3 linked regions of the Homo sapiens genome follow. The protein of the gene in region 1 purifies or fractionates together with the protein of each later gene. This does not show direct contact. Each region holds a gene or a part of one and is shown in the gene's direction. Other genes may lie near its edges.

Region 1 (8,422 bases):
GCATTGTGGGCTACATTTGATCTCTGTGGCATATTATTCTTAAACAACCCTTTAAATATTTGAAAACCATTCTTAGCTCCCACGTCATACAAAATAGGTTGTGGGACCGATTTGGCCTGTGGGCCTTGGTTTGTCATTGCATTAACCTACAATTTTCATGTTGCATTGCCCAAAAGATTATGCCACCTTTTAAGTAATATAAAAGGAGACTGGAGACACCATCTTTATGGTCTCTTTTTAGCTTTTATTGAACAGAATGTAAATTCATACTTTTAAATATTTTGTTCATAATGGCAAAGAGAAGAAAATTGACAGAGGAAGAAGTTTCACAATTATTAGACAAATCAGAAAATGAATACTGAAAGGTAAATTCTACACTGATGACGATGGTAAAGTGGATCATATAAGCAAAATTACCTACTATGAATCTTCAAATAAGATCTCATTATCTGAGTTTTCTCAACTAAAAATTTGATGATTGAACAATGTATTTTTAAGGATCAAGAGAAAATATGAGGCCGGGTGCGGTGGCTCATGTCTGTAATCCCAGCACTTTGGGAGGCCGAGATGGGTGGATCACTTGAGGTCAAGAGTTCCAGATTGGCCTGGCCAACATGGTGAAACCCCGTCTGCACTAAAAATTTGAAAATTAGCCGGTGTGGTTGCACAGGCCTGTAATCCCAGCTACTCGGGAGGCTGAGGCATGAGAATTGCTTGAACCCAGGAGGCGGAGGTTGCAGTGAGCCAAGATCGTCCTACCGCACTCCAGCCTGGGCAACAGAGTGAGACTCTGTCTCAACAACAACAACAACAAACAAACAAAAAAAAAAAAGAAAAGAAATATGGTATTCTACTCAGTCATTTAAGAAGAAGGAATTTCTCACATAATATTTTGTCATGGACAAGTAGTAAAGGATGTGTTCTGCTATTCTTTTATCTCTTATATTTGTGTTCCAAAATAGACTGGATATGGTTTTATAAATAGACAAATGCTGAAAGCAGGGGTGTATAGAGAAGTGATTGGAAGGAAATAGGTATAGGAATGAAAAAAAAAATAATTGGCTTGATCATTCTAAATAATGGTTATAAATCTAAAAATGAAAATATTTTGCAAAATGTAGATCAGAGGATAGCCATCCTTCAACAAATTATGAGCCGTTAAAGGTTTCAAAACTTCAAGCTTTCAGGTATTATATTATGGCAATGTAGATGCCAAAAAAAGAACAAGATACAACCATAAGCTATAACTTTATTAATAGATATCTGACTTATGAAATTTATAAAATGGATGTGTTCCATAAGACGCATGTGTTCCATGTTTATCCATGATGGTTGATGGGCAGTTGTATTCACAGGACATAGCCCATTTCAGCTATATCTTAAAAACAAGGAAAATGTGGAATGACTATCTGGATTTGCTGTACTTAAATACTTAGAAAAAATCTAATAAAGTTGTTTTCCACTATTTCCTGATTCTTCTCAACATTCTTTGTAAAATATGTGTGTGTGTGTGTGTGTGTGTGTGTGTGTGTGTGTAAAGTTTCCATTAGATGCAAATAACAAATGATGGTGACTGCTTTTCCTTGTATACTGAGAATAAAGAACTAGCTCCCTGTAGGAATTTTTCCTCTGAGTTGTGTTTTGTGTTAGGCTCTTGATTTACATGGAGGAGGGATGCTTTGAGAAAGAGTCTTAAAAAAAATTAGCTGCTGCATTTACTGTTAACAGTGTTTTAAAGAACTTGATCTAATTTACATTTGTTTTTTATATTAAGACTAGGTCATATATTTTGCTTGCTCTTCTTTGTATTATGATTTATAATTTATTATTTTTGCATCTATTTGATGATATGCTTTGATAATGATATGTTTTCTGGATTTTAGCATAATTCTAGATTTAAAAGAAATCAAACGGTAGAGTAAGGAGCTCCAGAAAATCCAGTCTTCCATAAAAGCAACAACAACACTGTCAGAAGATCACAGCTCACTGTAGTCTCGATCTCCTAGGCCTAAGCGATCCTCCCACCTCCACCTCCCAAGTAGCTAGGACCACAAGCATGCACCACCTCGCCTGGCTAACTTTTGTAGAGATGGGGTCTCCCCATGTTGCCCAGGCTGGTCTCAAACTTCTGGGCTCAAGCAGTCCTCCTGCCTCAGCCTCTGAAAGTGTTGGGATTACAGGATATGAGCAACTGTGTCTGACCCAGAATCAACTTTTTTGGAACTCTGGTAACTAACCAAAAGCTTGTAGCAATCAGGGGAACATTTAATCAAGAAAATACACTGAATCTCAGTAAGAACAGTGAGCTTTGTGGCATTTGGCTACCCTTGTCCCATCTGCTTCTCAGCTCAGTGATAGCCTTGAAAATAACAGACTCCATTCCTGGTACTGATATAGGGAGCAGGATAGACCTAATTCAGAAAGAATTGTAATTAACTTGTTTTCATCTGTCTGGTGGCTTGCTAGAAGACTGTTTAAAAAAAAAGAGGTCTGCCTTTATGTCACCTAACTTGGAACTCTTCATGGAAAAGTATCTACCTTGGGGGTGTTTGTTAAAAGTATTTACAGACATATGTTTTAGCTACTGTTGCCCGAGGCAAAGGAAAACAGTTGGAGTAAACCAAAACTAACCAGAAAGGTTGGGAATGAGATGCTTTGGGGAATGAGGGCTTTGAAATTCTCTGACATATTCTTGGTAATCTAGAAGGGTACGTGCATTCCCAGAGCTTTGTGCATGCTCAGGAAAGACCCGCGAAGACCCAGAGCTCTCTCTTCTGGCTCACTTTAAGTCTCCGCACAAGCAGGAAGTGAAGACTAAGGTGGAGTTATAAACTGCCTGGCTGAATACTAAAGGCATGTCCCAACACGCAGAGCCCATCTGCAAAGACTGGCAGAATTTTTTGGTTGCAGAGGTTTAAGGAAATTTCTTTCTAATCACTAGCAGACTACTAACTAATGGAACAGAGACTTCACTGGCCACACATAACAAAGAAACAGACTTTACAAAATTAGTTCAGATAAGTCATTAAATGAGGAAACAACTACAATAAACAGCAACAACAAACCCCTAGAAGGTGGAAACATCTGATTTATAGCGTCGTCACATTGTAATATTCAAAATGTCCAGTTTTCTACAAAAAATTATGAAACATACAAAGAAACAAAGTAAGGCTCTTATACAGAGGAAACGAACAGAAACTTCCCCCAGGGAAGCACAGGCAAAGACTTTAAGTAAGCTGTCTTTATTATGCTCAAATTGCTAAAGGAAACCAGAAGAATGATACATCATCAAATAGAGAATATCAATATAGAAATTATAGAAAGGAACTAAACAGAGTTTATAGCTGAAAAGTACAGTAACTGAATGGTTCACTAAAGGGCTTAGATAGCAGAATTGAGTAGACAGAAGAAAGAATCAGTGAAGTCGAAGATAAATTAATTGGAATATCCAGTTTGAAGAGCAGACCCTTAGAGACCTGTGAGACACCCTCAAGTGCACCAACATGCACAGCAGACACAGTGTAATGAGAGTAACATATGGAAAGGCGGGAGGGCTGGAAAGAATATTTGCTCTGGTCTGAATGTTTGTGTCTTTTTATATGATGAGGTCTTTTAAATTTATATGCTGAAATCCTAACCCCCAAGGTATTGGGAGGTAGGGACTTGGATGGTGACTGGGTCATGGGAGTAGAGCCCTCATGAATGGGATTACCACTCTTAGAGTAATAAGAAGATCACTTGCCCTACTACCACGTGAGAACACAGTGAGAAGGCACTGTCTGAACCAGAAAATGGTCCTTCACCAGATACCAAATCTGCCGGTTCCTTGATCTTGGACTTCCCAACCTCCAGAACTGTGAGAAATAAATTTCCGATGTTTATAAGCTACCCAGTTTATGGTGTTTTGTTATAGCAGCCTGAACAGACTAAAACAATATTTAAATAAATAATGCTCAGAAACTTCTCAAATTTGAGGAAAAACATTAACCACATTTAAGAAGCTCAAGAAACTCCAAGTAGGATAAACTACACCAAGACACACGATAATCAAACTGTCAAAAGGTAAAGAGAGAATGTTGAAAGCATCAAGAGAAGTAACTCATCACATGCAAGGATCCTTGCTAAGATTAATAGCTGATTTCTCATCAGAGACCCCATAGTCTTCTAGACGGTAGTGGATTGGCATATTCAGAGTTCTGAAAGGAAAAAAAAAAAAGCCATCAACCAGGAATTATATACTCAGCAAAACTGTCTTTAGAGATGAAGGAGAAATACTTTCCTAGATAAACAAAAACTAAGTCATTGCTGGCAGACCTGCTCCATAAGGAATGCTAAAGGGAGTCTTCTCTATTAATTATTTATTTTTCCCACACTCTGTTACTGTCTGTGTCTAGTTGCAGTAGTTTCAATACATTTCAGAAATGTGACAGCTATTTTTCTGGTGGGAAACTTTTAGTTCTTTTATTCTTTGTTAATATGCTAAAAACGAAGTAGGCTTTTGCATTTATCTGAAAAGAGGGACAAACTTGGACATAAAACTTTTTCATGTATATAAATTAGAGGTTCTTTATAAATTTACAAAGGAAATTGTGTGACTACAAGTTTAATTTGAAATGTGTGTCATATGTTAATTTCTTGCAGGAGAAGGAAGCCAACATCCTTTTGGAGCCATGAATATTGTCCGAACTCCATCTGTTGCTCAGATTGGAATTTCAGTGGAATTATTAGACAGTATGGCTCAGCAGACTCCTGTAGGTAATGCTGCTGTATCCTCAGTTGACTCATTCACTCAGGTAATGCAACATACATTTCATTCTTTACCTCCCCCTCCACTGCTTTATTAAGGTATAATATACAAGTTAAAATCGTAACTTAGGGTATACAATGTGATGTTTTTGATACATGTTTACATTTTGTTTTGTTTTATTTTGTTTTTGAGAGATGGAGTCTTGCTCTGTTGCCCAGGCTGGAGTGCAGTGGCGCAATCTCGGCTGACTGCAATTTCCGCCTCCCGGGTTCAAGCGATTCTCCTGCCTCAGTCTCCTGAGTAGCTGGGACTACAGGCACATGTCACCACACCCGGCTAAGTTTTGTATTTTTTTTTTAGTAGAGACAGGGTATTGCCATGTTGGCCAGGCTGGTCTCGAACTCCAGACCTCAGGTGATCTTCCTGCCTCGGCCTCCCAAAGTGCTGGGATTACAGGTGTGAGCCACCACACCCAGCCTATATTTTGACATAAAATCAAGCTACTTAACATATCAGTCACCTCACACAGTCATCATTTTTTTGTAGAGAACAGTTAAGATCTGATCTCTTAGCAAATTACAAGTATACATTATTAGTAACTGTATTCTCCATGCTGTACAATAGATTTTCAGAATTTATTCATTCCATTGAACTGAAACTTTGTGCCCTTTGACCAACATGTCCTCATTTTCCCTTCCCCTCCACTCTTCAACCCCTGGCAACCATCATTCTACTGTCTGCTTCTGTAAGTTCAACTTTTAGATTCCACATATAAGTGAGATCAATCATGCTATTTGTCTTTCTGTTCCTGACTTCTTAGCCTATTATCAAGAGGAAAAATTGATGATGTAGGAGAGCAAGGAGAACTGCTAAAGCAGTGTCCTTGAGTAGAAAATAGCAGCATATATGGAGGTGTTCACTTTAGACAGGATAATGGATATATGGGTACAGATTCAGGAGGCTGGTAGATGTGGTGATGAGAACTTGTGCAGGCTGTCTCCTGATTTCTTCTTGCTTAGTGAAATAGAAAGGACGATCATCAGCTAAGATCGAGGTAGTAGAAATTGAAATAAAAAAAGACTACTAAATAAGTCTTCTAGCAGAGGAGGAGTGAATGGATTAGGGAAACCATATGTGTTTGCCTGGCAGTACCAGAGGCGCACTTTTGAAGGTTGTGGTCATGAATGTAAAGGTAGATTTGTCACATCTTTGAAAATGGACTGAATTGAGAATGACAGACTCTGGGTCTCAAAAATGTTTTTTTTCCCATAATTTTACAAATAAGCTGCTGTGCTGAAAACAAACTATAAAATAATCGTAGTATCCTGTGTAGACAATATTTTAAAAGTGTCTGGAAAATACACATTAAAATGTTATCCCTGGAGAAGGGTAAGAAGACTTTTTTACTGTACATGTTTATAAATTATTTGAGTTTTTAAAATAAAACTATAGTTTTAATTAAATGTATTACGAAATATTTTAAATACAGAGAAAATAGAGTAACTTATATTTTCCACAAATAGTTATTATGTAACTACTCTGTACCAGGCATGTCTTTTTTTCTTTTTCTTTTCTCTTTGAGACGGAGTCTCACTCTGTCGCCCAGGCTGGAGTGCAGTGGCGCGATCTCGGCTCACTGCAAGCTCCGCCTCCTGGGTTCACGCCATTCTCCTGCCTCAGCCTCCCAAGTAGCTGGGACTACACGTGCCCGCCACCAGGCCCAGCTAATTTTTTTTGTATTTTTTCGTAGAGATGGGGTTTCGCCGTGTTAGCCACGATGGTCTCGATCTCCTGACCTCGTTATCCGCCTGCCTTGGCCTCCCAAAGTGCTGGGATTTCAGGCGTGAGCCACCGCGCCCAGCCTGTACCAGGCATTTCTAAGCACTCATAGATACAAATAGGTCCACAAAATAGAATAACACCTGTCTTTACAGAGCTCTCTTTATGGTGGGGTATACATTAAGACTTCCATTGTCTTCCCCCTGGATTTAACTGTTATATTTTGTCTTATTTGCCACTAATTTTTAAAAAAGAAATTAAGGCATTATAGATATAGCCCACTGCTGCCTGCTTCTCTTCCTGCCTTTTACCTTCTAACTTTTTATATCTTTCCTATTCATATTTTAGTACTTAAAAAAATTCCTGTGTATCCACAAAATATGTATAGTACTATCTGTATCTGTTTAAACATGTTTCTAATTTAATTACTTAGTTACTCCAAATTTTTATGAGTATTACATGTATTTGGTTTAAATAGTCAAATAGTTTTTTTTTATTATACTTTAAGTTCTAGGGTACATGTGCAAAACGTGCAGGTTTGTTACATATGTATATATGTGCCATGTTGGTGTGCTGCACCTATTAACTCGTCATTTACATTAGGTATTTCTCCTAATGCTATCCTTCCCCCTGCCCCCCACCCCAAGACAGACCCGCCCGCCGTGTGTGATGTTCCCTGCCCTGTATCCAGGTGTTCTCATTGTTCAATTCCCACCTATGAGTGAGGACATGCGGTGTTTGGTTTTCTGTCCTTGTGATAGTTTGCTCAGAATGATGGTTTCCAGCTTCATCCATGTCCCTGCAAAGGACTTGAACTCACCCTTTTTTATAGCTGCATAGTATTCCATGGTGTATATGTGCCACATTTTCTTAATCCAGTCTATCATTGGTGGACATTTGGGTTGGTTCCAAGTTTTTGCTATTGTGAATAGTGCCGCAGTAAACATATGTGTGCATGTGTCTTTATAGCAGCATGATTTGTAATCCTTTGGGTATATACCCAGTAATGGGATCACTGGGTCAAATGGTATTTCTTAGTTCTAGATCCTTGAGGAATTGCCACACTGTCTTCCACAATGGTTGAACTAGTTTATACGCCAACCAACAGTGTAAAAGCGTTCCTATTTCTCCACATCCTCTCCAGCATCTGTTGTTTCCTGACTTTTTAATGATCGCCATTCTAACTGTTGTGAAATGGTATCTCACTGTGGTTTTGATTTGCATTTCTCTGATGACCAGTGATGATGAGCATTTTTTCATGTATCTGTTGGCTGCATAAATGTCTTCTTTTGAGAAGTGTCTGTTCATATCCTTTGCCCTCTTTTTGATGGGGTTGTTTTTTTCTTGCAAATTTGTTTAAGTTCTTTGTAGATTCTGGATATTAGTCAAATAGTTTTTTTGAGATGGAGTCTCACTCTGTTGCCCAGGCTGGAGTGCAATGGCGTGATCTCGGCTCCTGCAACCTCTGCCTCTCAGGTTCAAGCAATTCTCCTGTCTCAGCCTCCCAAGTAGCTGGGATTACAGGCGCGTGCCACCAGGCCTGGCTAATTTTTGTATTTTTAGTAAAGATGGGGTTTCACCATGTTGGTCAGGCTGGTCTTGAACTCCTGACCTCGTGATCCACCCACTTTGGCCTCCCAAAGTGTTGGGATTACAGGCGTGAGCCATCACGCCCAGCCTCAAATAGTGTAATATGTGAAACAGCTGTCCTCTGTTATGACTCTTACATTCTACTTCTATTCTGCTCCTTAGAAGCTATGATTTTCAACTTCCCTCCCCTTTTTAATCTATTTTTCCTAGTGTCTGTTATTTCCATATATCAGAAAAAACCTTGCTTAAAATCTGTTAGTTTTTCTGTTATAGATGTTTTCTATTTATTTGCTAATATAAGACATG
Region 2 (8,422 bases), on another chromosome or scaffold:
GTAGGTGAAGCAATAAACCTAAACCGATCAAGCAATTATATCCCCACCCATCCATATACTTTTAAAATAGTTTAAGTACCTTGAAATATAATAATACCAGTGTTAAAGAGATCAAAAGTGAAAGCCATCTTCTCTCTCCCAATCCTCACCACAAAATTATCCACTATTAACTATCAGGTAATACTATTCCCAGAAGTTTTGTGTTTTGTTTTTTGTAGGATTGTTTGTTTTGAGACAGAGTCTCACTCTGCCACCCAGGCTGGAGTGCAGTGGTGTGATCTCGGCTCACTGCAACCTCTACCCACCAGGTTCAAACAATTCTAGTACCTCAGCCTCTCAAGTAGCTGGGACTACAGGTGCTCGCCACCATGCCCAGCTGATATTTGTACATACATCTTTTTTAGTATAGATGGGGTTTCACCATGTTGGCCAGGCTAGTCTCAAACTCCTGACCTCAGGTGATGGGATTGCAGGCATGAGCCATCATACCCAGCCTATTCCCAGAGTTTTTAAAATGCACAATTAAAATACATATTTTTAACAAAATAAGAATTGGCTATGCAGAATGTTTGGCTAGGCAAATAAATTTATTTCATCTATTAAACCTTGGATAGTTACCAGTGTAAGCAATACTTTATTCATTTTAACAGCTGCATAATATTCCATTGTTTGGATGGGTCATCACTTAATCTGATCTCTCCCAATACATCTCTTTTTGATTCAATAGCCCCAAGTAACTGCTTTGCACACATACTGCTCCCCATGTTAGGATGTTATGAGACATTTCCAGAAGTAAAATTGCAGGTTAATTATACTTTCTAATTGTCCCTCCAAATGATAACACCAATCCATCTTCCCATCTTCTGTGTATGGGAGTGCCCATTCCTATGTATTTTGACAGTCCAACATCATATAATGGTTTTACTGGCCATGTCTTCTGGGAATGACTTTTGTGTTTCTACACTGTGTCTACCTCTGGAGAGCAACAGTAAAATGAAAGGGAGCCTTCTGGGGGACTCAAAATAGCAACCGAAGAATTTAGCTTCAAACACAAGATCTCTCTGGTACTTGCTTCATAGGTCTCAATTTATGTGTTGCATTCATGAATAAAATATGACTTTTCCAGCTCAGTAGTTGTTCCACATATTCCCTTTGTTTGTTGTACATAAAAGACATCTATATCAGCTACAAAGGATGGAAGCTACAGCCAAGTCCCTGGACAATGAATTTCATAACCATCTCCCAGGAGCCTAATATCAATTCATGTGTCTTCATGTTAATTACAATGTTTACAATCTCCCAGTAGAGGCCACTTATTTAAGGAGAATGGAGCAGGAAGCTGAGAGGGATGGGGGATGACATTTTTAGAGGTGACAGCTTATACCTTGGAAGAAAGTGTTCAGCAGTCTTTGCAAGCCCGGCCCCCACCAGCTGATGAATTTGCATTCTGAATGCACCCTTACATTTTTTCTGGATTAAATGGTCACACAGGTAAAAATCTTTAGGTTATAGTATTTCTGAGCTGAGCCATGGGATGCTTTGAGAACTGATGTGTAGCATTAAGTAAAACAGAGGCAGGGGCCACCCCTGGATATTCCAGAAGACAGCTTCCTAACCCAAATGAGGAAACATCTGGCTTATGAAGCACATGTTTAAGGGGACAGTGAATTAGCACATGTGAATTTTAGACTGTCCTGAAAAATCCAGTACAGAACATAGACTTCCTCCATGGAATCCCCACAAAGAAGCAGCTGGGAACAGTTCATACCAAGCTTTAAGTATCTTCTCTGTCTGGGGCCATGTGCTCGGGACCAAGAAGGTAGAGGCAATCACTGTGCAGAAGCAGGTAAGAGGGATGAAATGAGAACAGGCCTGGAGCTGGGCAAATTTAAATCCCAATTCTTCACTTTACTAGCTGGGTGACCTTCAGCAGGTGAATTCAGCTTTCCGGGACTCTTTCTTCTGCAGAATGGAGACAATGATTGTGTCTCTCTCAAAGCACTACTGAAAGAATTGATCTCTGACAAACAGTATGTGGAAGCTTTTAATAATTTTTGTTATGATTTATAATTCCTGCTTTTGAAGACCTCACAAGCTGCCAATCTCTAAGAGAATCCTTATTACACCTGAAATTTCAATTTATCCAAGGCTTCTTGTTTTCTGCCACTTACTTATAGCCAAGATTGGTCAAGGACAGCTATAAAGATCCTTTAGCCTCATCCAGGAACATACAAGACTTAAGTTGCTAATACCTAATATAGACGTATTTCTATATGAACCTTTAGCACTTAACCCTGCTAGTAGCCACCATACCTGAGGCATGTGTTGAGTCGGAACACTGGGGACAGGGGACCTGGGGACCCAAATCAGTCAGAGTATGAATTCTGCCATGTATCTTTTGAGACACTCTCATTGGACTTGTCCTCATTCTTCAGTGGGAATCCAATTTTTCTCCCTTCATAGCTATGTTTGAAGAGCAAGTGAAAACAATTTTGTATACCATAAAGTGTGTATTCACTAGACAATATTATGAACACCTATTATGTACCAAGTATCATGTTAAGCATCAGAAGAACCAAGAATAATAAGACAGATGAAATAAAGTAAAATAGAGAAAAGAAAATATACAGAATACTCTATAAAATATGGAATAAAATAAAATGTGAACTGAGACTAGAGAATGAAGAAAAATAAGTTTCAAAGACAGATTAGCAGAAGGGATACTAAATTATAGTATAACCAGGAAAGCCTTCTCAGAAGAGGAGATATTTAAGCTTGCTAAGAATACAGGAAAGCGCTGGAGCAAGAGTGATCCTAGCAGAAGGAACACACAGGGAAGATGAGATTGAGCTCATTCTCAGATGACCCTGAAAGTCAACAAGCCTAGAGTCACAGGATGTGACTGGAGAGACAGAAGGAGCCTCATCTCACAGAAGGACCTTCTAGTATTATGATTGCCATGAAGCTCTTAAGAATCTTCCTGTCCAAGTTATTTTCTTTTTCTTTTTTTCCTTCCTTCTTTCCTTCATTCATTGTTTTTTTGTTTGTTTGGTTTTTTTTCAGACAGAGTTTCACTCCCTCACCAAGGCTGGAGTGCAGTGGAATGATCTTTGCTCACTGCAACCTCTGCCTCCCAAGTTGAAGCAGTTCTCATGCCTCAGCTTCCCAAATAGCTGGAATTACAGGCATTCAACACCATGCCCAGCTAATTTTTATACTTTTAGTAGAGACAGGGTTTTGCTATGTTGGCCAGGCTGGTCTCGAACTCCTGGCCTCAAGTGGTCCACCCGCCTTGGCCTCCCCAAGTGCTGGGATTACAGGCGTGAGCCACTTCGCCAGCCCCAAGTTATTTTCACGCATTATTTTTTGTATACACTGGGCTCAGGTTCACCAAAACCACTATTGCCTTGGGTCCTACATTCCAAAGCTTGATTTTATTTTAATCATACGCTTTTCATCCACCTACCCCATCCCACCCTAAAATTTTCCCCAGACAAGGATGGAGATCTGAAGACTCAAATTGAAAAGCTCTGGACAGAAGTCAATGCCTTGAAGGAAATTCAAGCCCTGCAGACAGGTAAGGTGCAGACCTTCTCAGTGCCTTGTCCCAAAGGAGACAGGAAAATTTCTGGGTCAATTTCTGGGGGACGTCTTTTTAAAAGAAACATTGACAAATCAATAATGTGGCCAATAAGAGGGCCCCAATGCCGGGAGATGATTGTTTTAGGAAATCAGCTTCATTTACAATCCCATTCTCCTATATATGGGTGGTATAGAAATAAAAATAAGTAGTTCAGGAATAAATTTGAAAAGTCAGTCCATACTTATTCTCTAAAGAGTAGTGAAACAGAATGAAGCCAGTATGAAATGACTAAAATGATTAGCATTTATTGGATGATAGCTAAGTGCCTATCAGGCCACCAGGACTCTCTCGGGCCACACCCAGCCTAAGATGCTGGAAGGACATGGGTTAGAACCGCAGCTTGCCAACAGGGCAGCGCCAGCGTTCCTCCCCACAGTTATGCAGCCACATGCGCTACTGCCCAGGAGCTATTCTCCAAGGGGTGAGGAAGTGAGCCATGTGGGCAGGTTTGGGAACAGCCCTGGTTTACAAGGCTCATCCCCCAAGGAGCTAATATCCTTTGTAGCAATTTCAAAAGCAAGGTGTTGAGGTTCCTCACAAGAGACCTGCCTCATTACAAGTTACTGCCTTCAGGGAAGACTGAAGTTACGGCTTTCCATCAAGTATTTATAACTCCCAGACCAGATGCATGTTACCAACCTGGGGTCATTTTTACCACAAGCAATGTTGCCTAGTAACAAGGGTGACATACTCCCTTTATCAGGCTTCCGGGGGAACAGAATTAGAAAGTTAAAAGACAGTCAAATGCTTATGCAGAAGGTGAGTTTGGTTCATCCTTTACCCACAGTCAGGTACTAGAAATTCTTTATAAACACAAATCCATTAATCCTCCAGCAACTTAAGCTATTATGATCCTAATTTTACAGATGAGGAAAATGAGGCACAAAGAAGGTAAGTAATTTGTTCAAGAGATACACAGCTAGTTAAATGTCAGAGATGAGACCTAAACCCAGGCACTATGGGCTCTGAGGCCTGACTCTCCAGTGCTACGGCCTAAAACTATCTTTATGCTCAGTTTATCCTGAATAATCTAAACAATATTACCAAGGCTCAGTTATCTGCTTAAGAAAATCCCTGTCTCTCCACATGCAAAACTAGAATTTAATTGATTGATTGATTGATTGATTTTTGAGACAGAGTCTTGCACTGTTGCCCGGGCTGGAGTACAATGGCGCAATCTCGGCTCACTGCAACCTCTGCCTCCCAGGTTCGCACGATTCTCCTGCTTCAGCCTCCTGAGTAGCTGGGATTATAGGCACACACCACCACATCCAGCTAATTTTTTGTATTTTTAGTACAGACGGGGTTTCACTATGTTGGCCAGACTGGTCTTGAACTCTTGACCTTGTGATCCACCCGCTTCTGCCTCCCTAAGTGCTGGGATTATAAGTGTGAGCCACCACGCCAAGCATTTTTTTTTTAAACAAATATTTTTAAAAATAAATATTAAATACCATCTAGTTCCAAAACTCCCAAAGAAATCCAACACAGAGTAGCAAGCATGTATATATCAGAACAGCATGAAGTTTAAGGCCATGTCTTGGGATAGGGCAGACCTGCATTTGGGTAGCTGTGATCTCACATGCTGCAAAAATTACTTCATTTAAAAAAATGTGGCTAGGCGCAGTGGCTCACGCCTGTAATCCAAGCACTTTGGGAGGCCGAGGCAGGCGGATCATGAGGTCAGGAGATCGAGACCATCCTGGCTAACACGGTGAAATCCCGTCTCTACTAAAAATACAAAAAATTAGCCGAGTGTGGTGGCAGGCACCTGTAGTCCCAGCTACTCGGGAGCCTGAGACGGGAGAATGGCGTGAATCCGGGAGGCGGAGCTTGCAGTGAGCCGAGATGGCGCCACTGCACTCCAGCCTGGGCGACAGAGCGAGACTCCAACTCAAAAAAAAAAAAAAAAAAATGCTAAGGTGTTACAAGTAACAACTTCTCTAAGCCTAAATATCCTGATATGTAAAAATAGGGGTAATAAAATACAACTTCATGGGGTTGTCAGGATTATGTAACTTAATTTATGTAAAATGCTTAGCATGTTGTCCGGCACATAGAAAATTTTAACTGTTGTCTCATCATTATCATACTTCATTCCACAAATACTTATTGCTATTTGCCAGGTCCAGCCCTAGTCATAATACACTCAAAATGCATCTTAATATGTTACACTTCACATCTTCACAGTCTGTCTCCGAGGCACTAAAGTTCACAAGAAATGCTACCTTGCTTCAGAAGGTTTGAAGCATTTCCATGAGGCCAATGAAGACTGCATTTCCAAAGGAGGAATCCTGGTTATCCCCAGGAACTCCGACGAAATCAACGCCCTCCAAGACTATGGTAAAAGGAGCCTGCCAGGTGTCAATGACTTTTGGCTGGGCATCAATGACATGGTCACGGAAGGCAAGTTTGTTGACGTCAACGGAATCGCTATCTCCTTCCTCAACTGGGACCGTGCACAGCCTAACGGTGGCAAGCGAGAAAACTGTGTCCTGTTCTCCCAATCAGCTCAGGGCAAGTGGAGTGATGAGGCCTGTCGCAGCAGCAAGAGATACATATGCGAGTTCACCATCCCTCAATAGGTCTTTCTCCAATGTGTCCTCCAAGCAAGATTCATCATAACTTATAGGTTCATGATCTCTAAGATCAAGTAAAAATCATAATTTTTACTTATTAAAAAATTGCAACACAAGATCAATGTCCATAGCAATATGATAGCATCAGCCAATTTTGCTAACACATTTCTTTGGGATTTTGCCCTTCCTGGGGTATAGGGGATCAGAAATATTGATCCATGTGCACGCAGATAAAATGGCTTCTGCTAAACAGACTAAAATCTTTCTCTCTAGTCTTTCTCACTTGTACAAACCCAGTTTGTTTTCAAAAAATCACAGTAGCAATGCAACTCATCACTCTAGAAAAGCAAGCTTAGGCTACCTGAAAGATTTTCCCTTGGAAGTTTAGCGTATGTTTGACTAACAAAAATTCCCTACATCAGAGACTCTAGGTGCTATATAATCCAAAAACTTTTCAGCCTGTTGCTCATTCTGTCCCATGCTGGCAATAATACCTTGTCAGCCCATTACCCTTATTTTGAATTGCTCCATCTCCTGGTGGGACTTGTATCTTGTCTGCCATATCAGAACACAAACCCCTGAAGAGGTTCTGATTTGATTTTTTTTTTTTCTTCATGCCTACCCTTTTTTTGGAAGTTTCCAGCCGCAATTTGAAATGAAATGACAAGGTGTATATTTGATCAATTTTCATTCCCACCATTGCATTACAACCTCTAACTTAAATGGGTAACCCTAAGGCATATCAAAGAAGCAGATTGCATGATAAACGGAAACAGAAAAAAAGAACCTACATTTATTTTGCTTTAGCATCCTTACTCTCACCTTTTATGAGATTGAGAGTGGACTTACATTTCCTTTTTTACATTTTCGTATACTTATTTTTTTTAGCCATCATTATATGTTTAAGTCTATTATGGGCAACCAATCTTTGGAAGCTGAAAACTGAATTTAAAGAATGCTATCTTGGAAAATTGCATACGTCTGTGCAATTTTTTATTCTGCCTAGTGCTATTCTGCTTGTTTAACTAGATTGTACAAAATAACTTCATTGCTTAATATCAAATTACAAAGTTTAGACTTGGAGGGAAATGGGCTTTTTAGAAGCAAACAATTTTAAATATATTTTGTTCTTCAAATAAATAGTGTTTAAACATTGAATGTGTTTTGTGAACAATATCCCACTTTGCAAACTTTAACTACACATGCTTGGAATTAAGTTTTAGCTGTTTTCATTGCTCAATAATAAAGCCTGAATTCTGATCAATAGAAAATGTGTTCGAGTGTTAATTACAGTTATTCAAAATATGTTGGTTTATATTAAACTTGGCAGAGTTTGAGGGGAATTACCCTGAATTTAATCAAACTGGTGATTCGGATATACTCAGAGAACAATTTTACCTGGCAATGAAGAGGTATGGTCTGGCTAGAGGAGGGAAACTTTTAAAAAATTTTAGCTGCAGAGGCTGGGCGCAGTGGCTCACACCTATAATCCCAGCTTTTTGGGAAGCTGAGGTGGGCGTATCACTTGAGCTCAAGTGTTCAAGACCAACCTGGGCAACAGGGCGAAACCCTGTCTCTACACAAAGTACCAAAATTAGCCAGGTGTGGTAAGGCATACCTGTGATCCCAGCTACTCGGGAGACTGAGCTGGGAGGATTTCTTGAACTCAGGAAGCTGAGGCTACAATGAGCTCAGATTGTGCCACGACACTGCAGCGTGGATGACAGAGCAAGACCTTGTCTCAAAACAGCAAAAAATGTAGCTGCAATTATATCTGGTTGATCTTGGCCAACTCCCTACTTCCAACGTAACCACAGTCTTCGTAAAGGTAATGACCATAATGAAACGGGTGGACACTGGTGAGTAAGTGCATTCTCTTCACATTTCAGGTACTATGCTAGATCTTATATAATTATCATTTATCTTGAGGAACAACCCTGGGAATTTAACCTGGAGAATTAGGCTCTAGAATCATTTCATATTACAGAAGAAGAAAAAAAAGAGAGTTAAGTTGTCCTAAGTCACAGGCCAGGAAATAGTGGAACTGTCACTGGAACTTAACAAGCTGACTCAGATCCTGTATACTTACTACCCATGGGGAGCAATAAAAGGTAAAGCCCATTCAGAAAGGCAATGGGAGTGGATTCTAATCCAGTATCTCAATTTCCTTAGGTGAAGTAACAATCTGGACTAACAGCTG
Region 3 (8,422 bases), on another chromosome or scaffold:
ATATGCATATTTAGTATACTTTCTGCCTTTCCATTTGTTACAGATAAAAGTCACATTGTTCCACTCTAAGGAGGAATTTAAGTACTAAATTTGTTAGGTGTTGACTTCTCTTTATAGCTTCCAAGTAATGGCTGGAGATAGTTTTACTTCAACTTCTACAACTTTGAAATGCTTGAGGGAATACCTTCACTGATGTTTAAAAACTGATCTCCCTGTTAGAATTACATAATTCCATCTTAGTATTAAAAATATGACCAGAGGCAGAGTGCAGTGGCTCACACTTGTAATCTCAATATTTTGGGAGGCTGAGGCAGGAGGATCATTTGAGCCCAGAAGTTTGAGACCAGCCGGGGCAACATAGGGAGACCTTGTCTCTACAAAAAATAAAAAATTAGCCAGGTATGCTGGCACACACTTGTGGTCCCAGCTACGCAGGAGGCTGAGATGGGAGGATTGTTTGAGCCCAGGAGTTTGAGGCTGCAGCGAGCCATGATCTTGCCACTGCACTCCAGCCTGGGCAACAGTGTAAGATCCTATCTCAAAAAAAAAGTGAGGGGGCAGGTGCCGTCACTCACACCTGTAATCTCAGTGCTTTGTGAGGCCAAGGCAGGAGGATTGCTGGAGGCTAGGAGTTCAAGACTAACCTGGCCAACATAGCAGGACCCCATCTTTATAAAAAATAAAAAAAAAATTAGTTGGGCATGGTGGTACATGCCTGTGGTCCCAGCTACTTTGGAGGCTGAGGTAGGAGGATTGCTTGAGCCCAGAAGTTCGAGGCTGCCGTGAGCTACTATTGCACTACTACACTCCAGTCTGAGTGACAGAGACCCTGTCACCAAGAAAATTTGTTTACTAAATTTAAAAAAACAGTTTTTATTAATATCATCCGTAATATTTGTGTTAACAAAAACAATTCCAATTATATGTTTGGCAAGTGGGTCCTCCAATCTAGTAATAGCATAGTCTCTTTTTTTTCTTATATAGCAGGGCTCCCCTACCCCCAGGCTGAGGACTGGTACCAGTGTGTGGCCTGTAACAGGGAACCGGGCCACACAGCAGGTTAGCGGTGGGTAGTGAGCATTACTGCCTGAGCTCCATCTCTTGTCAGATCAGCCATGGCATTAGATTCTCATAGGAGTGCAAACTCTTGTGAACTGTGCATGCACCAGATCTAGGTTGCATGCTCCTTATAAGAAACTAACTAATGCCTGATGATCTGAGGTGGAACAATTTCATCCCAAAACCATCCCCCTCTCCCCAGTCTGTGGAAAAACTGTCTTCCACGAAACGGGTCCCTAGTGCCCAAAAGGTTGGGGACCGCTGTTATATAGTATCTTAATTCTAAATTAGAAGTTCATCATTTGGCCAGGCACGTTGGCTCACACCTGTAATCCCAGCACTTTAGGAGGCCGAGGCGGGCAGATCACCTGAAATCAGGAGTTTGAGACCAGCCTGGCCAACATGGTGAAACCCCATCTCTACTAAAAATACAAAAAATTAGCTGGGTGTGGTGGTGGGTGCCTGTAATCCCAGCTACTTGGGAGGCTGAAGCAGGAGAATCGCTTGAACCCAGGAGGCGGAGCTTGCAGTGAGCCAAGATTGTACCACTGCACTCCAGCCTGGGTGACAGAGCGAGACTCTGTCCCCCCAAAAATAAGAAGTTCATCATTTTGAGCTGGGCACACTGGCTCACACCTGTAATCCCAGCACTGTGGGAGGCTGAGGCGAGCGGATCACCTGAGGTCAGGAGTTCAAGACCAGCCTGGCCAACGTGGTGAAACCCCATCTCCACTAAAAATACAAAAATTAGCCGGGCATGGTGGCAGGCACCTGTAATCCCAGCTATTCGGGAGGCTGAGGCAGGAGAATCGCTTGAACCCGGGAGGCGGAGGTTGCAGTGAGCCAAGATCGTGCCATCACACTCCAGCCTGGGGGACAAGAGTGAGACTTCGTCTCCCAAAAAAAAAAAAAAAAAAAAAAAGGAAATTCATCATTTTATGCAGAGATTATATAGTAAATTCCTAACTGGTCTTCCTGCCTCTTGATTTTTCTCCAGTAGATCCTGTATTCTTCTGCCAGATTAATCCTCATAAAATGCCATTTATATCACCTCAGTGACACACCCTAGTTGCTTATCAGGCTGAGTTCTAATGCCTCATACTGGCATTTAATTCTCTGCCTATCTCTCCTGAGATAACAAACTGGATTTATTCTACCTCTGCTTTGTTTAAAGCTGTTTTTACCTTGTGATTGTTCCCATAAATTGTCTACTCTTTGTCTTTAAACTAGGCCATCCTGCTACTCTATGAACTTATTGTCTGTAATTTTGGTATTATTCTGAAGTGTTGCCTTATTTGTTAATTGATTCTTGGATCTCTTTTATTTCATCAAGTGAAATATAAACTGAAGGCAGGTCCAGAGTCTGATTCGTTTTTTCACTCCCTTCTTCTGCACACCCAACAATGTAAGATAAGACTAGGTGCTTAGTACATATTTATTGGTCGCTGAGTCACCCATACTGTTTTCAATCATAGGATATTAATATGATTCTCTCAATGATGGATATCAACCCAGGTGATACTGTTTTGGAAGCTGGCTCAGGCTCTGGTGGAATGAGCTTATTTTTATCCAAAGCAGGTAAGAGATTGGACTGAGCTGGATCTCAGTAACAAAGAAAACATTCAATTTGTTCATAATAACAGAAAGGTATAAAGATATTTGGGAAAATACCTAACATTGAGGTAGCATTCTCCTAGAATCTGAAAGTAAGCAACTATTTTTCTTTCCATTCTGTACATTTATTCCAGTCAGTCTCTTTCTAATCCTCCCTCAATTTTCTTTGCTTTGTTTTACTTTCTCCATGCTCTCTAATGCTGCTTCTTTTTTCTTAAGTATACTTTTTATTGGAATATAATATGGCTACAGAAAAGTGTGCAGATCATAAGTGTATATCTCAATGAATCTTTGTATAGTGACCACTCATGTACTTATTACCGAGATCAAGGTAGGGAGTGTCCCTGCCCCACAGATGCCTCCTCATGTCCCCTCCCAGTCCTTATCATCACCAAAGGAAACCACTATTGTGACTTTTATCATCACTGATTAGTTTTGCCTCCTTCGAACTTATATAAAATGGAATCATACAGTATGTGCTCCTTTGTATCTGGCTACTCTCATTCATTATTATGTTTGTGAGATTCACTCATTGCATGCAGCAGTAGTTCTTTCATTTTAGTTGCTGTATAATACTCTCTATTTAAATCACAATTTACCTATTTTACTGTTGATAGACATTTGAGTTGGATATTACAAATAGTGCTGCTTGGAACCTCCTTGTGTACTTGTCATGTTATTGTTGAATACTAGTGCCAGGTGAATACTTAGCCTGAGGGAATATGGAAGGACGTTGTCAGCTGTTGGGGGGAGAGTTATATATCGTTAGGGCCAAAGAATTATAGTAGGTGTTCATAAAGAAATTAATCATAGTACAGAGCTATTAAGTAAAAAGCTAGATCATGAAGAATTATCTTTTTTTTTTCCAGAAAGTCTCTAAAAATTGTCAGTTGGTAAAAGTACTGCTTGAAGGTGGGTGTCTGATCAAAAATCAAGAGGTGTATATTAAACATATATATTTTTTCATGTTCCTACCACTTAATTTCTAGTTACTTTTATGCTAGTTGATTAGTACCTCTTTGCCTACCTAATTTCTCTGAGTGTCAGGGTTGCTTTGGGTGGTCTGTCTGTGCAGTGTTCTCTTCCCTACATAATACTAGACTGCTGAATAGTCACAGTACTTTCTTTGAGTAGATTTTATAAAGATTACAGATAGAAATATGCTGAAATTAAACTCACACCTTTTGTTCTTTGACCTAATGTCTTCACATATGAATATTATCTAGATTATACTAAGCCGGTAAATTCATTCTGGGCTCCTCAATCAATCTTTTGTTTGACTTTTCTGTACATAGTTAAAGGCAGTCATTTTCTCATCATCTATGACAAATTCCTAACTGCACGGTTTCATTTGACAAAGTGGATTTATAAAAATTGGTGAGAACAGATAAGTGCCTATATTTCTAAAATATATAGTATCAGAAGAGTGTCATGGCTTGAATAATCCTAAACTATAAATGTGCAAGAACTTATTGCTATTTACCTATGTGATGGATATTTTTCTCCATATTTTCTTTTCCAGTTGTTTATGTTACTTTTTTTTTTTTTTTGAGGCGGGTTCTCACTCTGTTCCCCAGTTTGGAATGCAGTGGTATGATCGTGGCTCACTACAGCCTTGACCCTCGGAACTCAAGTGATCCTGTCGTCCCAGCCTCCCAAGTAGGTGGGACAATAGGCACATACCACCAAAGCTGGCTAATTTTTAAAGTTTTTGTAGAGACTGGGTCTCACTGTTGCCCAGGCTGGTCTTGAACTCCTGGCCTCAAGCAATCTTGCCTAAGCCTCCCAAAGTGCTGGGATTACAGGCATGGGGCACCACGCCCAGCTTATGTTACTATTAAAATTAATTTTTATCTCCTGAGAACCTGATAACTTGCAGTTGGAGTTACATTTCAAAAGATACCTTGGAATTTAAACTTCATTAGTAAACTGTAAACTGATTGATCTGGGATAATCTCCAAATGGTATCAAATCACTTCAGATAGAGGTGGGTGGAAAGTTAATTGCCTTAAGTTAAAATGTAGTACTCCTCTCTGGAATTGCAGTATTACTGTGCTAATTAGTTTAAAAGTTCTTCACATACACACACACACACACACACACACACACACACACAAATACAAATACCTTTAATTTTTTTTTTTTATTTTTTGGTAGAGACAGGGTTTCACCATGTTGGCCAGGCTGGTCTCGAACTCCTGACCTCAAGTGATCTGCCTGCCTTGCCCTCCCAAAGTGCTGGGATTACTGTGGCGAGCCACTGTATCCGGCCACAAATACCTTTTAAATATATGAAAGACTCAACCTCATCCATAATAAAAGAAATGCAAGTTAAAATTACATTAAAAGGCTGAGCATGGTGGCTCACGTCTGTAATCCCAGCACTTTGGGAGGCCGAGGCAGGCAGATTGCTTGAGCTCACGAGTTTGAGACCAGTCTGGCAACATGGCGAAACCCTGTCTCTACCAAAAATACAAAAAGTTAGCTGGGTGTGGTGGCACACACCTGTCGTCCCAGCTGTTCAGGAGGCTGAGGTGGGAAGATCGCTTGAGCCTGGGAGGTGGGGGTTGCCGTGAGCTGTGATTGCACCACCGCACTCCAACCTGCGTGACAGAGTGAGATCTTGTCTCAAAAAAAAAAAAAAAAACCAAACTCAAAAATCTACATTAAAAATGATAAACTTTATTCACTTTTTAGATTGATACAGATAAAAAGTTCAATAACTTAGGGAGAGTATGGAGATACAGGTATTCTTTTTTTTTTTTTTTTTTTTTTTGAGACGGAGTCTTGCACTGTCACCCAGGCTGGAGTGCAGTGGCGCATCTTGGCTCACTGCAATCTCTGCCTCCCAGGTTCACGCCTTTCTCCTGCCTCAGTCTCCCGAGTAGCTGGGACTACAGGCATGTGCCACAACACCTGGCTAATTTTTTGTATTTTTTTTAGTAGAGACAGGGTTTCACCGTGTTAGCCAGGATGGTCTCAATCACCTGACCTCATGATCTGCCCGCCTCGGCCTCCCAAAGTGCTGGGATTACAGGCGGGAGCCACTGCGACCGGCCTGAGATACAGGTATTCTAATACATTGCTGGTTGGCATATAAGTTGACACCACTTACGTGGAGGACAATGTAATATTATGTGAATAAATTCACATACCCCTTGAGCCAGCAATTCCATTTTTAGGACTTTATCCTGTAGAGATATACTGGCTTGATACAAAGACTTAGGTATAAGAATTTTCATTGCAGTATTGTTTATATTAGCATATGACTAGAAACAAGCTAAATGTTCATCGTAGCCATACAGTGAATATAATGCCTGTTAAAAAAGAATGCAGTACATCTAGAAGCACTGAAATGACATTGGTAAGTAAGAAGGAAGGTACAGGACAGTGTGTATAATACACCACAGTGTGTATTAAAAACACAGAGAGATACTTGGCATGCTTGTATAGGCAGTGACTATCATGGGAAAGGTAAATAGCTGGTAATGTGGTTGCCTCTGAAGAGGGAGGGAGATTAATTGGAGATCAGGGATAGGAGATCAGACTTGTAACATTGAACTATTTGAATTATTTTTTTCACATACATGTAGTACCTTTGCAAAATACATTTTTGACACTTTTTAATAAACTGATTAATATTATGAAATATCAAATTATTTTTTACTTAAGTTGGATCACAAGGACGAGTCATAAGTTTTGAGGTACGAAAAGACCACCATGATCTGGCTAAGAAGAATTACAAACACTGGCGTGATTCATGGAAATTAAGTCATGTAGAAGAGTGGCCAGACAATGTGGATTTTATTCATAAGGACATTTCAGGAGCAACCGAAGACATAAAATCTTTAACATTTGACGCAGTAAGTTTTCTAACGTGGGTCCTGTGTTATTACTTTGACTATAAAGAAGATAGGGGTCAGGCTTCTTTTGTATGGGCAAAGGTCTTCCTTCGTTTGCTTCATGTCTATCTCTAGGGATTGAAAGAATATTTTCGTTTCATGCCTTTTAATCTCATGGTGGGATTTGGGACAGAGAGACATACTGAGTTACCGAGTTGGGTGCTGAAGTTGTCATTGAATGTGGGGTAATGACTGAAAGCTAGGACCAAAGACTAGTTGAGCATCATGAACCTCAGCATTTCTAGGATGAATCATACTTTGGAAGCAGCATTGGAAGCATATTGAACCCGGCACCTAACCTGAACTGTGAGATTTGGGGGAATAAGTAGCTTCCATTTGACAGGGAATAGGCAGAAGGCATCTTTAGTTAGTTGAAGTCAGGATATCAAGGGGAGTGTGTTCATTGAAGATGTCGAGGACAGAGGTGTTTATCATGAACAAAGCTCCAGAAAGTGGAGCAGAGACATTGTGAGGAAGAGAAACACTGGGAAGTTGACTTAGGGAAAAGAAGCAGAGAAGATGAAAGTAAAAAGATAGATGACAAGAGAGGATACATTAAGCTGCGATCAAACATGGTGGAGATCTGGGACATGGAAGTATTTGCTGGCTGAAGAGTTTCAGAATTCCTTGGTGATGCCACTTCACAGTTCATAGCTTCACACTATGGACTGAGGCCTTGGTTAGGAGTCTTTCTTCCTTTCCTTAATTGGCTGCTGGAAGGATGGACTGTTTTGGTGAGAAATGAAGCAAAGTTCAAAGAGGAGAGAAAATCTTTTTTTTTTTTTTTTTTTTTTTTTTTTTTTTTTGGCAACAGAGTCTCATTCTGTTGCTTAGGGTGGAGTGCAGTGGTACAGTCTCAGCTCACTGCAACCTCCGCCTGCCGGGTTCAAGCGATTCTCCTGCCTCAGCCTCCCAAGTACCTGGGATTACAGGTGCACGCCACCATGGCCAGCTAATTTTTGTATTTTTAGTAGAGATGGGGTTTCACCATGTTGGCCAGGCTGGTCTCGAACTCCTAACCTTAGGTGATCTGCCCATCTCAGTCTCCCAAAGTGCTGGGATTACAGGCATGAGCCACTGTGCCTGGCCATGAAAATGATTTTTATCAGCACTGGCTTCCAGCTCTGATATAACTAAAACCTATAGTTTTAGTGGCACAGCTTCCTGTACAGAAAGACCTCAGTTCTTTTTTCTCATTTATGGCTTGCATGTTACAGCTCAATAAGGGGGAAAGAGCTCTGTTTAGGTCATCCATAGGAATGTCAAAAATACCTGCGAGATTAAATTGGTCATCAGAATTTTGCTTGATGAGCATGAAACACAACAAAGGATTTTAATGATATCATTGAAGCTTTGTAGAAACCTGCTGAACCATTCCTGATCTAAAAAGAACACTCTTTTTTAGATTTATTCAGCTGAATCTCTCTTGAATAATAGTGCCAGATGATTACTCAATATGAGGGAATAGAGAAGGAGAGGGGGTGTCAGCTGCTGGGGGAGAGTTATATACCGTTAGGACCAAAGAATTATAGTTGGTGTTCATAAATAATTATAATACAGAACTGTTAAGTAGAAGCTAGATCATGAATAATTTCCTTTTCTTAAGAACGTTTCTAAAAATTGTACATTGGTAAGAGTACTGCTTGAGGGTTGGTGTTTGATCAAAGATCAAAAGGCATATGTTAAACATAAATCTCTGGCAGGGCACAGTGGCTCACGCCTGTAATCCCAGCACTTTGGGAGGCCGAGGCAGGCGGATCTCCTGAGGTCAGGAGATGGAGACCATCCTGGCTAACACGGTGAAACCCCGTCTCTACTAAAAATATAAAAAATTAGCCGGGCGTGGT

The links.
Region 2: the proteins of HIKESHI (region 1) and CLEC3A purify together in Homo sapiens (affinity purification with mass spectrometry; 2 studies listed by BioGRID and IntAct, with this or other methods). This does not show direct contact.
Region 3: the proteins of HIKESHI (region 1) and TRMT61B purify together in Homo sapiens (affinity purification with mass spectrometry; 2 studies listed by BioGRID and IntAct, with this or other methods). This does not show direct contact.

The regions. Positions count from the first base shown.
Region 1 is NC_000011.10:86,332,738-86,341,159, forward strand, and holds part of HIKESHI (protein Hikeshi), read left to right. Parts: intron 1-3,226; exon of another isoform or gene 3,227-4,196; intron 4,197-4,641; coding exon 4,642-4,793; intron 4,794-8,422. UniProt on the Homo sapiens protein: Acts as a specific nuclear import carrier for HSP70 proteins following heat-shock stress: acts by mediating the nucleoporin-dependent translocation of ATP-bound HSP70 proteins into the nucleus.
Region 2 is NC_000016.10:78,024,614-78,033,035, forward strand, and holds the end of CLEC3A (C-type lectin domain family 3 member A precursor), read left to right. Parts: intron 1-3,493; coding exon 3,494-3,577; intron 3,578-5,833; coding exon 5,834-6,228; 3' UTR 6,229-7,488; downstream 7,489-8,422. UniProt on the Homo sapiens protein: Promotes cell adhesion to laminin-332 and fibronectin.
Region 3 is NC_000002.12:28,859,232-28,867,653, reverse strand, and holds part of TRMT61B (tRNA (adenine(58)-N(1))-methyltransferase, mitochondrial precursor), read left to right. Parts: intron 1-2,534; coding exon 2,535-2,637; intron 2,638-6,345; coding exon 6,346-6,536; intron 6,537-8,422.